Linked DNA regions of Homo sapiens. The protein of the gene in region 4 interacts with the protein of the main gene of each other region in a pairwise test. Each region holds a gene or a part of one and is shown on either strand. Other genes may lie near its edges.

Evidence for each region.
Region 1: the proteins of SLC44A5 (region 4) and CBX5 interact in binary tests that used the Homo sapiens proteins (3 or more experiments, as listed by UniProt).
Region 2: the proteins of SLC44A5 (region 4) and SERPINH1 interact in a two-hybrid assay, tested with the Homo sapiens proteins (one large-scale study listed by IntAct).
Region 3: the proteins of SLC44A5 (region 4) and BDNF interact in binary tests that used the Homo sapiens proteins (3 or more experiments, as listed by UniProt).
Region 5: the proteins of SLC44A5 (region 4) and PECAM1 interact in binary tests that used the Homo sapiens proteins (3 or more experiments, as listed by UniProt).

Annotation. Positions count from the first base shown.
Region 1 is NC_000012.12:54,232,780-54,235,144, reverse strand, and holds part of CBX5 (chromobox protein homolog 5), read left to right. Parts: 3' UTR 1-2,365. UniProt on the Homo sapiens protein: Component of heterochromatin that recognizes and binds histone H3 tails methylated at 'Lys-9' (H3K9me), leading to epigenetic repression. In contrast, it is excluded from chromatin when 'Tyr-41' of histone H3 is phosphorylated (H3Y41ph).
Region 2 is NC_000011.10:75,560,993-75,565,052, reverse strand, and holds the start of SERPINH1 (serpin H1 isoform 1 precursor), read right to left. Parts: upstream 2,801-4,060; 5' UTR 2,734-2,800; exon of another isoform or gene 2,675-2,733; intron 2,581-2,674; exon of another isoform or gene 2,037-2,580; intron 1,327-2,036; exon of another isoform or gene 1,283-1,326; intron 1-1,282.
Region 3 is NC_000011.10:27,690,446-27,693,970, reverse strand, and holds part of BDNF (neurotrophic factor BDNF precursor form isoform a preproprotein), read left to right. Parts: intron 1-2,830; exon of another isoform or gene 2,831-2,865; intron 2,866-3,525. UniProt on the Homo sapiens protein: Important signaling molecule that activates signaling cascades downstream of NTRK2. During development, promotes the survival and differentiation of selected neuronal populations of the peripheral and central nervous systems.
Region 4 is NC_000001.11:75,209,091-75,212,615, forward strand, and holds part of SLC44A5 (choline transporter-like protein 5), read right to left. Parts: exon of another isoform or gene 2,844-3,525; intron 2,463-2,843; coding exon 2,378-2,462; intron 1-2,377.
Region 5 is NC_000017.11:64,373,842-64,377,366, forward strand, and holds part of PECAM1 (platelet endothelial cell adhesion molecule precursor), read right to left. Parts: intron 1,516-3,525; coding exon 1,210-1,515; intron 1-1,209. UniProt on the Homo sapiens protein: Cell adhesion molecule which is required for leukocyte transendothelial migration (TEM) under most inflammatory conditions.

The DNA.
Region 1 (2,365 bases), on a different chromosome or scaffold from region 4:
TCTGCCTGGATAATTGAGAGTTGACTAACTTTGGAAGTCAGAATTCCCAGGAATTAGAGTAACTGCTCTGGAAAGTTAAAGTGTGAAGTTTTTTAGATAGTTTCATAAAAACAATTCTGGTTTCTTTTTGCTTGTGCTGACTTTCTTGGATTTTAATCTACCTCATCTTGTCTTTTTAGAGTTACTTCAACTTGTCACTTTAACATTGTGCTTGACTTTGGTTGTTTTCTAAGATGGAATTTTTCCTGTTCATTGACAGCTTGTTCTCTTGCCTTTTCATTCTGATCCTCATTTCATCTAACATCATCTCATATTGCTCCTCTGTCAAGAGAAATGTTTTAAAATAGTTTAAAGTCTTGTTTTATGGGAAGAAAGTGATCCTCCAATGCTATTTGTTTCTGAGGTCAGTAAGAGAAGGAGTTAAAACAAGGCAGTGGGGAAGGGAATGAATCCTGCACTGGAGGCAAAAGCTGACAAGGAAAGAGCCATTAATTAAGACAATTTCAAAGTCAACTGATTGTGATCATTAATGTCACAATAGATCAAAACCTAATTATCACAGCCTAGGTAAGAGCCATCAGTATTAATCGGAAAATCTAATAGGAAACTATTATCAAGAAATTAGGCCAAATTGAATGCAGTGAACTTTTTATCTTGGCATTCTCTATTTTTTTGTGATGTCCCCTGGCATTGGCAGGTGTGACCCTAACAGTCGATTCAAGGCCAAGTGGTCAGTTTGTCAGCCTTTTTTAAGGGATTTCTTTTTATTTTTAGGAATTCCAAACAGAGTTAACCTAAACTGTCATTGCCAAAAGATCAGTCTTAAACTTTCTTAGCACCTGTACCTGTTTAATGTGATCAGCTATCAGTGAGGAAAAAAAAAAAAATCTATTTAGGTCTTGGAATGGTTCCTGTACCTAGAGTATCCATATTGAACCTTTTTTTTTTTTTTTTTTTTTTTTTTTTGAGATGGAAACTTGCTCTTTTGCCCAGGCTGGAGTGCAGTGGCGTGATCTTGGCTCACTGCAACCTCCGCCTCCCGGGTTCAAGCAGTTCTCTGCCTCAGCCTCCTGAGCAGCTGGGATTATAGGCGCCTGCCACCATGCCCGGCTAATTTTTGTATTTTTAGTAGAGACAGGGTTCACCATCTTGGCCGTGCTGGTCTTGAACTCCTGACCTTGTGATCCGCCTGCCTCGGCCACTCAAAGTGCTGGGATTGCAGGCGTGAGCCAGCACCCGGCCACAGTATCTTTATTACAGCTCACTGCAGCCTCAATCTCCTGGGCTCAAATGATCCTCCTGCCTCAGCCTCCCAAGCAGCTGGGACTACAGGCGCACACCACGGTGTCTGGCTAATTTTATTATTTAAAAAATGTTTTGTAGAGACAGTCTCCCTGTGTTGCCCAGGCTGGTCTCCAACTCGTGAGCTCAAGTGATCCACGTGCCTCAGCCTCCCAAAGTGCTGGGATTACAAGCATAAGCCACCGCACCCGGCCCCTAGTGAACATTTTACTGTATGTGTTGATAAATCATCTTTTGAGTTTCTGTTGTATGTGGGGACTTCCTACACTGGCTGCTGTGAAGAGGTATGGAAGAAAGGAGAGGCTTTCTGCCTAGAAATTCTTTGAGAACACCTGAAAAGACAGTTTAATCATGTCACAACACTCTTAAGGCTCAAGTCAGTGTTCTGGTTTCCGGTAGCTTTAGGATTGGATTCTAAACGAGGGCTGGTGGTGAGTTTGGTGTTTGTCTCGTGTCACCCTCACCCCTCACCTCCTCAGTTTAGGATAAGAGACATAATGATTTCTACCAGAATCCAAAGTAAATCCAAAGGGGGAGAAAAGACATAACTGTTTTTTCTTCTACCTTTTTTTTGTTAAAGAGTTACATCTCTCACAGGAGGAAAGAATTCAAGAGTCTATATGATTAGTTACAGAGAATATTTTCATCCCCTCTCCCTGAATAGAAAAGCAGGGGTCACCATTTGTATCCTTACCCTTGAGGTGTTTTTGAAGATGCTGTAACTCTTGAAGTTGAGCTGAGGCAGAAAGGTTGGAAAAATGCAGCCCTCTGGGTATTGTGGGGAGGGATGTGATGTAGTAAGAGGGTGTTTTGTGGTGCTAGGATTCCCACGCCACCAACTTGCAGCTTTATAAGAGCGCTACCAAGAACCACCACTGGGGAAAAGGTTCTTATTCATTGTTTCTGTTGGAATGTGATCTTGCTTTCTGGATTTTAGGAATTCAGGTTACTCAGTATAAAACTCTGAGAAATCAGTGTGACTTAGTCCTTCACCTCCTAAGATAAAGTGAATATTTCTTTACAAAATAATTCATGTCCTTAATGTTAAAGATGTAATTTTATT
Region 2 (4,060 bases), on a different chromosome or scaffold from region 4:
ACAGGAGAGATGACAGGGCAAAGGGAAGGATAGAAGGAATCCTGGTGGAGGCTGCGATCCCACTGCTCTGGTAGATCCCAACTTGTAGTCATCCTTGAAGAAGACCGAACATTTGAAATCCTGGTGGAAGACCCTCAGGACTCTGGCTGCCTGGGGACCACTGTATTTCTGGGAAGATTCTACTGCTGCCATCCCAAAAACCTGGACAGGCTCCCCATCTCCCGGGACTGCCTCCCTCCTCGGAGCCTTGAAGGTGCAGTATAAGATAAGCAAAGGGTCCAAGGGGAGGGAGGTGGGGAGAGGAGGGAAGGCCCAGAGATCTAAAAATGTCTGGAAGGAGCGGGGAGATCTGAGTCTCACCCTAAAATGAAGGGGATATCTTGGGGCCTAGAATAAACCCCAAGACACCTCCCTCCCAGCTCTGGCTCCTTCCCTGCCAGAACTGGAGCCTCAAAGGCAGAGCAACCATATAATTTATTGCACAAACAAGGACACTTATAAGAGTAAAATGGGCACTACTAATTATTATGCCAGGACAATAGGCATATGGCCACCCTACTCAAAAGCCACCTCTGATCCAGACCAGTGATGCTGGAGCTCAGACCACAGCAGAGGCCAACAGCCTTCCTTCCCTGAGGAGGCAGCTGAAGAGCCCACTCCCAGCCATGCCACGTGGCAGGTACCATCTTGACAGCCCCCACCCCCACCAGCCAGAACCTCAAAGGACTGGGAGGGGCTTCTCAAGCAAGCTCCAAATAACTGGTTTGGGATTCCTCAGGCAGCCCGCTAGGCCCGCAGCAGCTTAGCGCCTGCTCCTGGTGGTGACGTGGCAGGCAGGAGGCTGAACTATCTCCACCGGCCGGCAGAGGGGGGCTTCCAGCCTGGGAAGCAGGCCTGACTCAGGTCCCAGGGGGTGCCACATATTTGCCAGGGGACTCCAGGAGCCTTCTTGGCCTTAGTTCCCTTCCCATCCGCACATGAATCTCTGAAGGGAAATGCGCTACTGGGGAGAAGGGCAGCCCCACTGAACCCAGCAGCAGGAATGGGGGAAGGCAAGTTACTGCAAGCAGGCCAGCCTCCCACAGCCCAGCCCATCTTGCCACAGAGAAATGCCAGCCCTCAGGCCAAGGTTAGCTGAGTTACAGTCCCACAAAGAAAATACAAGATCACCTAGCCAGGGCTGTGCCCACAGCTAGCTGGACTGAGCAGGGTCTGGAAGGGAAGGGGAGGAGATGATGGGACCCCACCAGAGGGTCCCAAACACTTGAGAGGTCTAAAGTACCTGGAAACTGCCTCAGAGGGAGGTCAATGCCTGCCTTTTTCATTCTGAAAGAAAACAGAAGAGTGAAGAGGGCGGGAGCCGGCAAAGGAGAGATGGTGAGGAGGCCCCTGGCGCAGAGGGCACAACCAGTCCCCAATCTACAGGGACCTTGGAGATCGACCACCTCACTGTAAAATGGGAGAAACAAGGCCAGGGCAGGGGGTCACCCCAGGTCCCTCGGGATAAACAGGGGTCTGCCTTCCCAGCACAGGGGTCCTTCCTCACAGAAGCACAGAGCCCCTCCTGAGGGCTGCATGCGGTGTCCTGTTACACAGCCAGTACAAAAAAAAAATCTCTGCTGGGAGTCCCGGTGACAGAGGAGACAAAGGAGAGGACGGGAAGGGGGGATGGGTACATGAACCATCTGAAGACAGGAGGGTGTGGCCCCGGCCGGAATTCCGGAGAACCAAAGCCCCCTCATTTTCCTCAGGCCTCCATCCGGGCCGTACAGCCCAGAGGGACCAGCGGGAAACAAGGAAGAGGAGGGGCTGAGACTCTGGGCCAGTCTGGAAGTGCATTCATTCTCCTTCCTGCTCTTCAGCCACCTCAGGAATGTCTCTAAGCTGGGGGGCAGGGAACCCCAGCCTCTGGAAGTTAGACCCTGCAGTTTAAACCCTGCAGTTACTCCAAGAACCCTGTGGCAGTGGACAGAAGGAAAGACTCAAATCCTTCTAGTCAGCCCCTTAATCCCCAGAGCAGAGCAGACCCTGCTGACCCCCACTCTCTTTTTTCGGAGTGGTAGGGAGCCTCGCTGGCCAAGTCTTTCCTTTGGCTGCCATCATCTAGGCTGCAAGCTGCTGATCAGAAATTGAGCCACTGTCGCCCACTTCTACCAGAGCACACGGACCCCAGGAGTCGAGACGATTTCACCTCCTTTCCCACCACCGGAAGCTCAAATTCCCTCAGCAAGCCTGTGAGGAGGCTGGGCCACCAATCACCGCTGCCCCTGAGCCTCAACCCCAGAACGGAAGTGACCTGGAACTGCGAGGCCGGCCTATCCTCCCTACCCTTGCGGGAAGAGGCACCAGACCCATCTCCTTCCTCCTCTGTTTCTTTCCGCAGAGGCTCTGCTCTCTGCCCCCAGCCCCCTTTACACAGCACCTAGTCTCGTATCTGCCACCACCACCTTTTAGGGGTCCCTGCACTTTTTCCCAGTCCTCCGAGTGCACGGACTCCCAACCCGGCTCCGATCTCCGCCCTAGCCCTCAGCTGGCACCATCACTGGCTAGCCCTGGGCTCTCGATTCCAAACCCTCCAGCGGCCCCCAAAGTGCCGAGGACTCCAATTTGTAGGCTCTGGCTCGGCACCCAACGCTTCGCAGGGTCCCCTCGCCCCTCTTACTCCCTCGCGCACCCCCAGATTGCTCGGCGCTCCCCCGGGCCGCACGCACGCAGGCGTCTCCCGCCCCTCACCTGGGTCGGGCTGGGCTAGCGCCGGGACGTGACTCTCGCTCTCGAGCCGCGACACGATTCTACTCTTAGCCCGCTCCCCTGCTCCCGGGATCTATATATGGCAGTCCCCACCCCCTCCTGCCCGTCCCGAGAAACTTCTGGAAAGTTGGAAACGCTTCCGGAGGGCGCCCCAGCTCCGCCAAAAAAAGCCAAAGACCTCCCTCAAAACCTCCCCGGCCCCCGGCCCCTCCCTCTGCCGGCGCCTCCCGGCCCCTGGGTCCTACTGCCTCCCTCGGCGGCCCGGGCTGCGGGGCGCCGGGAGTCCCCACGGGGATCAGCGTGTCCTTCAGAGTGCGAGCTTCCTCCCACCCCCAGGCTCTCTGCATAAGCTAGCCCACTCCGAATCGCACGTCCTTTCAGGCGCCCCTTTCCCCGCAGGGGCTCTGCCCCAAGCAGAGCCATCTCCCCTTCTCCCCGCTCTCCCCCATTTTCAAGCTGAAACAATTGAGTCCTGTGCACCCCCTCCCTCTCAGGGGAGACGTTCAGGCTTCTGAAGGCAGTGCCCTTCTCCATACTTGTACATTCAAAAAACCTCAACCTCAGCGATGGCCAGAGGGAGAGGGAGCAGACCAGACCCGGTACCTGCCCGGCACCCGGAAAGTTCAAGTCGTGGAGTAATAGAGGCAGAGATGCCTGGGGAACTTCAGGTGGTCTGGCTGGGCTTGGAGGAGTGCACAGGAAGGAAAACCTGGCTCTCCACTGAGCAAGGTGCTGTGTGACCCTAAGCAGGTTACTTTCCCTTTCTGGGCCTCTGTTCCCTTGGCTGTGAAATGTGGTTCTAAGGCATCCCTTGCTTTTTTTCCCCCCTCTCTCCCTTCCTCAATCCTTGTCACCCCTGGCCCCCTCCCTATTGCATCCCCTCCCTCTTTGGGTCCCCTCCCACAGGCCTCAGGTCTCACTGTCAATTCCTACCCCACCCTCGCAAACTGATAGCTCCTTGACCTCCAAGTTAAGCTAGGGTATTCATTACTGTTCTAGGTGCTGAGGACACAGCTGAGAGCTGAACAAAGTCCTTGCCCTGTGCGATGTCCATCTGTGGGGTATGTACCTGTTAGTAGGGAATTCAGTGATTCAGTGAGGCAGATTATTTAGGAAACCCTAAATAATCTGGGCGACAGTGGCTCAATTTCTGATCAGCCGAGGCTCCCTACCCTCCGAAAAGTCCTCTTTAGTAGTTTAATGATAGCTATTGGATGGACGCAGTATGGAGAGGAAGGGACAGGGTAGGGACTCTTCATTCATTCAGTCATGAATGAATGCATTGAGTATCTTCTTTCTTCTAGGTGCT
Region 3 (3,525 bases), on a different chromosome or scaffold from region 4:
ACTAAAATAAAGGTGCGTGTGTGTGTATGCACATATATCTAAAGGGAGAGAGGGAGAAGGAAACTTACTAAATAAAATTTTTGCCACATGGGATTTAGTCTAATCAGTCTTGGTTTTGGAGTTGCTATCATCAGTAGTTCCATTTTGTGATTCTTTCTTTCTGCCTTCATGTGCCTTTGAAAACTGAAACTATGCCCAAATTAAAACAAGTTTTTCTGTCTTTTCACATGTTCACTTATTTCTTGAATGTGTTTTTAAACACAGACAAACTTCTTTTACATCATGTAGAATCTGAAGGTCGAGAAATTTGCAGTCATTTTGCTGGAGAGAGATGCTTGGCGGAGTCCCAGGCCACATTCCTAGGCCAAACTCTCGAAGGTATTCCTCTTATGCAACATTGGGAAAATACATCCAGCACCGACATGTTGGCTGATAATGTGTCTGAAGGCACAGACGATATGCTTATCATATGAAACATAAAGCCAGCAGATATTGCAGACATTCTGTTGAATGATAGAATCTGGATCATTTACATTTACTTAAATGTAAAATACTATGATTAAGTACAAAAAAATCAATTTAGGAGAGAATAGAGAGTTGCGGGCACGGTTTTAGGGGATGACTTATCAGCAGATTGTAGAAAGGAAGCTTGAATGTTTTAAATTAACTGCAAGTTCAGTATAAGCCAGTGGTGTGACAAGAGGCTGTTATCATAGCTACTGAAATTTTGGGCTGCACTGCTAGAAATATAATACTGAAATGGAGAAGCTAATAATTCTTCACTTTTTAAATAGACTGTATCTAGAATATTATCATCAGTTCAAGGAAATGAAATAAGTTGTTTTAGGTACATCATCGATAAATTAGTGTACATTCAAATCACTGTGACCAGGATGCATAGGGAATTTGAAAGCATTGCATGTGAGCAATGGTTGAGGGGACTTGGAATGCATGACTTAGGGACAAGAAAACTTAGGCTGGAATGGCAAGTGGTTTTTGAATGTTGGGTTGAGAAGAATTCTAAAACTGTGAAGGATTAGTAAAAATAACATTCAGATTGCTAATGCCTACTGTGGCTGGGAGATTAGAGTGTCAACATGTGTGATGTATTTTTGACATCCTTATTTTGAGGATGGGCTTCAAAGATTTGACGAACTGTCATAAGTGTAATTTGTGTTGCTTCAGACAGCAGTTCTAGAACCAATGATGTAAATTTAGATACTCTACATGGTAGTTAGAAAACTTTCCATTAATTTAATTTAGCAAATATTGAATGCTCACTGCATACAGAGCACTTTATTAGAGGAATATATAATAAAGAAAAAAGAGGTCTGGTGTGGTGGCTCATGCCTGTAATCCCAGCACTCTGGGAGGCTGAGGTGGGAGGATCACTTGAGCCCAGGAGATCATTACGAGTCTGGACAACATAGCAAGACCCCATCTTTACAAAAGACAAAAAAAATTATCCAAGCCTGGTGACAGGCACTTGTAGTCCCAGCTACTTGGGAGGCTGAGGCAGTAGGATCGTTTGAGCCCAGGAGGTTGGGGCTGCAGTGAGCCGTGATTGTCCCACTGCTCTTCAGCCTGGGTGACAGAGTGAGACCCCGTTGGAGGGAAGGAAGGGAAGGAAGGAAGAAAGGTAGGAAGGCTGAAATGAAACCCTTTTAGAAATGACACTAAAATGGGAGGTTGGAGTAAGGTATTTTCTGAAGTGCCTTTGTACTTGTTTTTTTCTAATGCATTGGCCATAAGTCTGCTCCTTATTTATAGTCCATAAACAATCCTAATGAGAACAGTTATATATTTCTGCCTTTGAATCATCTACTTGAAGTGTTTAGCATCATGAATTGAGTATCAGAAATCCCTCCCATTTCTTTGCAAAGCGCTGTATTTTACTTTTCCTTATTTGTATACAGATTCTCAAAATTGGCTATTTTTCCTTTGGGTTAGACAGAACAGAATGTCTGGAAAAAAAAGTTCTTATCAAATTCAGGTGCCCAAATTGCTTAAGAAATTAACTTTTGAGGTTATATTTTTTTAGGGTTCAGTAGCTAAACTAAGAAAACTTCTCACCGTTCACCTTCACTTTTGGAAACCACAAAATCTTCAGATATTACAGTTTTCCAAAGAGTTTCTCTTTTTAAATATAAACTAAAAGGAATTGACTCCTCCCCCAACTCCCTCAGGCCTCAGCATGGATAGAGTTACTTTTTTTCTTTAATAATTTATTTATAACTTATTTTGCTCTTCTGTAGAACAGCTGGAGATTAAGCAACATGGCCATGACATAAAATGCAAGTTAGACCATAAGATGAGCAGCCCACTCCAAGTATGAATGAGTACTTATTCTTTGTGATCTCTCATACTGCTTTTAGGTATTAATAGTGTCAGTCAGCAAAGCAAACAGTTTAATATTTACATCTCCTTTAGGATATCATATAGTTTATAGTTTGTATGTGTTCTTGCGTGTATGTTTTCTTCTGTTTCAAATTCTTTTTTCTTAAAGTAAGAATGTTATATGTAGCAAATGGTTCTTTCATTAATTCATTTGTTAATTCACCGTGCATTAATTGAGTGCCCAGTGAGTGTCAGGCACTGGGCTACTTGGATTTCTTTTCCCTGTATTGATCCATATATCTTCAGGTGCTCCTTGATATGGCTCTCCATTGACTCTCTCATATAAGGCTTTCATTACCTATTCACATACTCCCTCCCAAAGAGGACTGGTCCAAAAGTAAAATCTTGAGCAAGTTCTCTGAGTTATTTCAGAACTTCTTGCCCCCAAACTGTATTTTTAATTATTGACTGGTAGCATTTTGGAATAACTTACCTCTCTTTTTTAAAGATTGAAGTTCTTTATCCTCTCTGATTTTCAGGTGTCAGTTTGTGTACAAATTGAGACAATAAAAATGTTTGTTAGACATTTTCTTAAAGCATTTTGCTATGTGAGAATCTTTCATGAAGAACTCTTTTTAACAATGACTCTATAGCAGAAGCCACAGTAGAGGGAGAACTACTGAATCAAAGATGGTGTTTGAGTCTATGATTTTATGATGGATTTTTTTTTTTTTTACATACAAGGATATGCATGGGTCTTTTAGTATTCAGGAATCTGTTCTTCACTTGACAGTATTTATAAATTGTGTGTTTCCCCCTAAAAAAACTTAAATTGTGAGAATGCTTCCATTTACTAGAAGTTGGTTAATGATTATGCCAAATAAGGAAAATAAGACAGAAAAATCAGTTTAGTGAATACTATTTTGCCTTTAAATTTAGTAATTTAGTAACAGTATCTCTTTGGGGTTTACTAGAAACCACTTTTTAATCCAATAGGTCTCTTTCATTGTGAAGTCAGGAGGTGATTTTGCTTAAATGTGTAGTATAGGAATCTATATGTGGTGTTCAAGGATCATGTAAATATGCTGATATAATCGGAGCACAGTTTGGCATCATTAACTCAGAAATATTTAAACTCTTGCTATACAACATGGAAGCAAACTTGTGCATAGTTTGTGTGTGTGTGTG
Region 4 (3,525 bases):
ACAAGTGTCTCTGAAAGGAAATGATTCATGTCAACATGCAATACACTGAATCAAGCTGATGTACCTGGCTTTCAAGGAGTTGGCAATTAATAAAGATGGTGGAAAACATTTCTTACTGTCAAAATTCAAAATCAACTGCCAAACTTAAAATCCACATATTAGCCAAAACTTCCAAAGACTGGAAGCTAGTAGGTTCTAGACATTTCCTGAGACAAATTTTCATAAGTATTTTCAGCTACAAGAATGGGGAAGGTCACATAGTGATTTCCAGTTATTGCTCCCATGGTTAATGTTGGAGATGAGAGGAGAGATCTTTGAGCATTCTAGAGCCCTGCGTCCACCATGTTTTAGTGCTTGACCTTACTCGTGCTCCTTCTTCCATCCCATACCTGAACTGTTTGTTCATGTGATATTTTGTAGATAGATGGCTTTCCTTAGACCACTGAAGCACTAGGAAAACATTAAACATTTCATTTCCATTTACAACCAGAGGAAGAGCTAACTAGTACATAAAGTTCTCTTGAATTCTTTGTCCGGTTATTGAGAATTGATTTTAACAGGCTCAGAAACAAACAAACAAAAAACAAGGCCAGACTTTTTTCCAGGAGGTTTTCTTTGAATATATCTCCCTATAGTTATCGTCTCTCTTGATCCCAGTGTGAAGTTGGTGCTGTGGGTTATTCTAAAATGCAAACTGTAAATTTTATACAAGTGGATTGTTCAGTAATGGCCTGTCAGAGAGTAAATGTTCTCTGTTTCTCTTAAGGGCAATGTGCTAGAGAAATAATCTCTCAGGATGTGTAGTTGTGCAGCTAACAAGTTCTGCTCTTTTACTTACTGACTCTACTTTCTGTTGGTTTGCCAAAGAAATGGCATGGAAGGTGAAAGCCAGATTAAGCTTCTGCTAGGTACTAGGTTCTCCAGGACTTTTCAAGTGAGGTACTAATATTAAAAAAATCTTTTTTTTTTTCTCAGAGCCAGGATCTTGCTCTGTTACTCAGGCTGGAATACAGTGGCACTATCATAGCTCACTGCAGCCTTGAACTCCTGGGCCCAGGTGATCCTCCCACCTCAGCCTCCTGGGTAGCTAGGACTACAGGTGTGTGCTACCGTGCCTGGCTAATTTATTTATTTATTTATTTATTTATTTTCTAGAGATAGGGTCTCACTATGTTGCCCAGGCTGGTCTCAAGCTGGGCTTCAAGCAGTTCTCCCCATCTTGGCCTCTGAAAGCACTAAGATTACAGGTATGAGCCACAGTGCCTAGCCAAAAAAAGAAAACCCTATTTTGTGTATGGGAGTTGCATATGCAACTATAGGAGCATCATGTATAAGTCAGTGATGAAAGCTCTAAAGAAGTATTTTAACTCTATGTATCAAAATTAATCCAACTATTTCCTAGAGGCACTCCTCTCCGAATCCTATCCATTTGTCATTGTGATGCACAGTGCGAATTGGCCCTATATGTCCTTGAAACCACCTTGTCATCTTGGCTTTATCAGAATTTATAAATCCTCTCCTCAAAGAATTCCACATATCTAGTTCCCAGAGTCCTGTTACGTCTTCAGTTCTGTTAACAAAGCATGGCAGAAGCCAATCATTATTATTCACTTAAAAAATCAAGAAATGAACAAAATAATTTCATGCTAACAGTATGCCATGAAGCCTGTGCTTCATTTCAGTAGTTGACTCTTCTGTGCTTTGCAAACTCCATTCTCTTAGCTGTTAAGATTTCTTTTTAAATTTTGTATTTTTCTCTAAGCCTTGTTGAGGTATAATTTTTTTATCCAACTTTATTGAGATATAATTAATAAATAACAACTGTAAATATTTAAGGTGTGTAATGTTTTGATATATGCATATATAGTAAAATGATTGCCACAGTCAAGCTAATGAACATGTCCATAACCTCCCATAGTTATCTTTGTGTGTGTGTGGTGAGAATACTAACGAGCTTAGCAAATTTCAAGTTAACAATACAGTATTATTAACTATAGTCACCATGCTGTACATGTGAGTGCCATAATTTATTCATCCTGCATAACTGAAAGTTTGTACCCTTTGACCAACATCTCTCTATTTTACTGACCCCTCAATCTCTGGTCATCACCCCTCTACTCTGTTTCTATGAGTTTGACATTTTTAGATTCCACATGTAAGTGAGATCATGAAGTATTTGTCTTTCTGCATCTGACTTATTTCTCAGGTATTATGGTTTAAATAACATCTACTAAGCAATATCTCTTTCCAGATAAACACGTTTTGTGGTTGCAGCCAGGTAACAGCAGATCCCCAAGCCAGCTAAGGACATGGGCCTTCACCATCTCACCTTTCAGTTATCCACCGAAGGGGGAAAACACACATACTGAATACTCACAGAAGCAGATGAAAATTGTTTCAACACACATTGCATAGACGCTGAAGAACCCATGTGCAATCAGGTAAGACCCAAAAATGACTGTCTGTAAATGGATGAAGAAGAGAACCAACATGTCATTTACTTTGACCAGAAGAAGAATAATGCAGCTATAAATGAAAGCCATGATGAGAAAGTTTTGAAGTACTCTGTATGGGAAAAGAGTTCAGTATAGAGACCAAAAAGTTCAATGATAATGCTTCTGCATACTTTGTACTGAGACTTAAACAAGTTTTATTAAATTAACTGCCTTTTTTTTCCCTTTTTTGGGGGGTACTATTTTCTTTCTTCCTTCCCTTCCTTTCCCCTTTCTTTTCTTTTCTTTTCTTTTTTTTCTTTTCTTTTCCCTCCCTCCCTCCTTCCCTTCCTCCCTTCCTTCCTTCCTTTCTCTCTCTCTCTTTCTCTTTCTTCCTTTCTTCTTTCTTTCTTTTTCTTAATAAAACAGAAGTTTATTTCTCCCTCGGATAACAGTTTATAAGAGGTGTTCCAGATAACAGAACAACCCTTCTCAACACAGTGATCCAGGGACTCTTGCCACATGCCCAGCTCTTTAGAAGAAAGAGAGAACAAATTTTTGTATCAAGCAAAGAGATTTTGCCAATGATATTTTGTGTCTCTTCAATCAGTTGATGCCAGTGTTTTTATTTCTGAAATATTCTTTTGAATTCTTTTTAAACTTTTATTTTTTTAACTTTTATTTTTGGTTAAGGGGTATGTGTACAGGTTTGTCATATAAGTAAATTATGTGTCATAGGGGTTTTGTGTACAGATTATTTCATCACCCAAGTAACAAGCCTAGTATCCAATAGGTAGTTTTTCGATCTTCTCCCTCCTTCTACCCTCCACCCTCAAGTAGGTCCCAGTGTCTGCTGTTTCCCCCTTTGTGTCTATGTGTACTCAATATTTACCTACAACTTATAAGTGAGAACATGCAGCATTTGGTTTTCTCTTCCTGTTTCAGTTTGCTTAGGATAACAGCCTCCAGCTCCATCCATGTTGCTGCAAAGGACATGATCTCATTCTTTCTCACGACTGTATAGTATTCCATGGTGTATTTGTACCACATTTTCTTTATCCAGTCTATAATTGATGACCTGCTCATTTTCTTC
Region 5 (3,525 bases), on a different chromosome or scaffold from region 4:
ACATGGGTGTGCCTTCCCCTGACTTCTCCCGGCTTGGCAAATGAGACCGGGTCCTGGGAGTGGCTGACTACCTGTCCTAGAGCCCTGTATGTCCTGGACACTCCCCAGCTTCCCTCTGCTGTTGCCTCCTTCTCTCCTGGGAGCATTTCCCAGGCCACCTCATTTGTTTGCTGTTTGTCCAACGCAAATCTACGTTGAACAACAGGAGGCCAAGGCTGAGGACCTGGCCCCTCTTTCCTCCCGATCCCCTCCAAACCCAACTTCCTGGTGTCTGACCCTCGATGGCTTAAAGCAGTGGCTTCCAAACTACAGATCACATAATGCATCAGTGTAGTGTGTCATGGCCAGTGTTTAAAGACTGAAATAGGCTGGGCACGGTGGCTCACGCCTGTAATCCTAGCACTTTAGGAGGCCGAGGTGAGTAGATCATCTGAGGTTAGGAGTTTGAGACCAGCCTGGCCAACATGGTAAAACCCTGTCTATACTAAAAATACAAATTTAGCCAGGCATGGTGGCATGCCCCTGTAATCCCAGCTACCCAGGAGGCTGAGGCAGGAGAATCGCTTGAACCTGGGAGGCGGAGGTTGCAGTGAGCTGAAATCATGCCACTGCACTCCAGCTCAGGCAACAGAGCAAGACCCTGTCTCAAAAACACACACAAGGTTGGGGTGGTGGCTCACGCCTGTAATCCCAGCACTATGGGAGGCCAAGGCGGGTGGATCGCCTGACATCAGGAGTTTGAGACCAGCCTGGCCAACATGACGAAACCCCATCTCTACTAAAGATACAAAAATTAGTCAGGTGTGGTGCTGCATGCCTGTAATCCCAGCTACTCCAGAGGCTGAGGCATAAGAATTGCTTGAACCCGGGAGGCAGAGGCTGCACTGAGCCAAGATTGCACCACTGCACTCCAGCTTGGGCGACAGAGCGAGACTCTGTCTCAAAAAAAAAACCCCAAAAACCAAGCCAAACAAACAAAAAGCATCATATATATTAAGAGTAAAGTGTTGTTGGTGAAACTCTTGTCTGAAAAATTGTATGCAATTTAACTGTATAACAGTCAAAAAAGCTTGAAAAATACTGGCTTAAAATGATTAAGAACAGGTCTTAAGTCCTGAGAACAGCAGCCCCTTCCCAGTTCTGGGTTCTTTCTCCCCATACCAAACCAGAAACCACAAAGAACGATGAGGAAGGGAGCAGGATGCTGACCCGTCACGGTGACCAGTTCACTCTTGGTAGATTCTGAGGTCTGCATATGGATCCCAGAAATGATCCTAGCTTGACATCGGAAGGATAAAACGCGGTCCTGTTCCTCAACGGGGAATTCCAGTATCACAAAATTCTGGTCTCGAGAATTCTTCTCTCTTTTCAGCTTGACCATTTTTTCATTTAGTTCAAGTTTTTCAATTGTGAAGTGTATTGGGGCCTTTTCCTCTGGGACAGAACAGTTGACCCTCACGATCCCACCTTGGATGGCCTCTTTCTTGTCCAGTGTCACCCTGGGACTGGGCACTCCTACGGGGAAAGAGAAAGTCTGTCAGTATCAGCCTGATTGAAGAGAAAGTCTGTCAGTATCAGCCTGATTGAGAGACACAAGCCTCCCTCCGCTGAGTGACTGTAGTTGACCCATGAGAGGGCTCTTTTTTGTTCTCTGAACACCCAGTGCGACCTACCAGGTAATAAATGAACAGGTATGTGCCCAGCACAGTACTAGGCACTTTGAAATATATAAAATCTGGAGGCTGAGGTGGGTGGATCTCTTGAGCCCAGGAGTTGGAGACCAGCCTGGGCAACACGGTGAAATGCTATCTCTACAAAAAAAAAAATTAAAAATTAGCCAGGGGTAGTTAGTGGTGTGCACTGGTAGTCCCAGCTACTTGGGAGGCCGAGGTGGGAGAATCACCTGAGCCGAGGAGGTTGAGGCGGCAGTGAGCAGTGATCCCACCACTGCACTCCAGCCTGGGCAACAGAGACCCTGTCTCAAAAAAGAGAAGAAAAGAAAGGAAAAAATATAAAATATGCTCAATGGGAGCTAAGCTATGAGGAAACAAAGGCATAAGAATGATACAGTGGACTTTGGGGACTCAGGGGAAAGAGTGGGAGGGAGCGAGGGATAAAAGACTACACACTGGGTACAGTGTACACTGCTCGGGTGATGGGTCCACCAAAATCACCACTAAGGCCACGCGAGGTGGCTCACATCTGTAATCTCAACACTTTGGGAGGCTGAGGCAGGTGGATCACCTGAGGTCAGGAGTTTGAGACCAGCCTGGCCAACATGGCGAAACCCCATCTCTATTAAAAATACAAAAAATTAGCCGGGCATGGTGGCAGGCACCTGTAATCCCAGCTACTTGGGAGGCTGAGGCAGGAGAATTGCTTGAACCCCGAAGGCAGAGGTTGCAGTGAGCTGAGATCGTGCCACTGCCCTCCAGCCTGGGCAACAGAGTGAGACTCTGTCTAAAAATAAATAAATAAATAAATAAATAAATAAATAAATTTAAAAAATAAAATATGGTCAAGATGTACTTGGTGTTTTCAATGGTTTATAATCCTATTGGGAAGAGGACACAATCAGATTCCCAACAGATGATGCTTAGAGGGGAAAGGTAGCCAGTATTTGTCAGTGTCACTGTGATTGTTGTTACCCTTTATTGAATGCAGCCACAGGCTAGGACTGACTTTAATTTATTCCATGAACATTGACTGAATGCCTACTATGAGCCACATTCATTGTTCAAGATATAAGAATAAACCAAACACCATCTCTGTCTTTACAATTTCACTATCCAGAAGAGCAGACAGATGTGTAAGAATGGATGGCAATACTGAGTGAAATAGAATATTTGTGGACCGGGCATGGTGGCTCACACCTGTAATCCTGACACTCTGGGAGGCCAAGGTGGGTAAATCACTTGAAGTTAGGAGTTCGAGACCAGGCTGGCCAACATGGTAAAACCCCATCCTTACTAAAAATACAAAAAATTAGCCAGGCACAGTGGCGCGTGCCTGTAATCCCAGTTGCTTGGGAGGCTGAGACAGGAGAATCGCTTGAACCCAGGAGACAGAGGTTGCAGTGAGCCAAGGTCGCGCCATTGCTCTTTAGCCTGGGTGACAGAGGAAGACTCTGTCTCAAAATAAATAAATACATTTCTATTTATTAGGAACTCACTAGGTGCTGGAAATTTTGCTAAGCACTCTACCCACATGACACTTTTAACCCTCTCAATAATTGCCTGAAATGGGTATCGTTGTTATCTTCCTTTTACTGGTGAGGATTTTGAAGTTTAGAGCTGTTAAGGGACTTGCCCAGATTGAAACCCAGGCAGAGTGACTGCAGAACGAGGTGTCTTAACACACCGCTGTGGCCTTTATACACACAAATACCATTGAATGTAGAGAGAGCATCAGAGCTGTACTGACTGGCACCCTGGGGTAGACCCATTTTGTTTTGGAAAGAGAAGACATCATTGAGTTGAGTCTTGAAGAAGAAATTTTAATTTATGAGACGAGATGAAGAAGCAT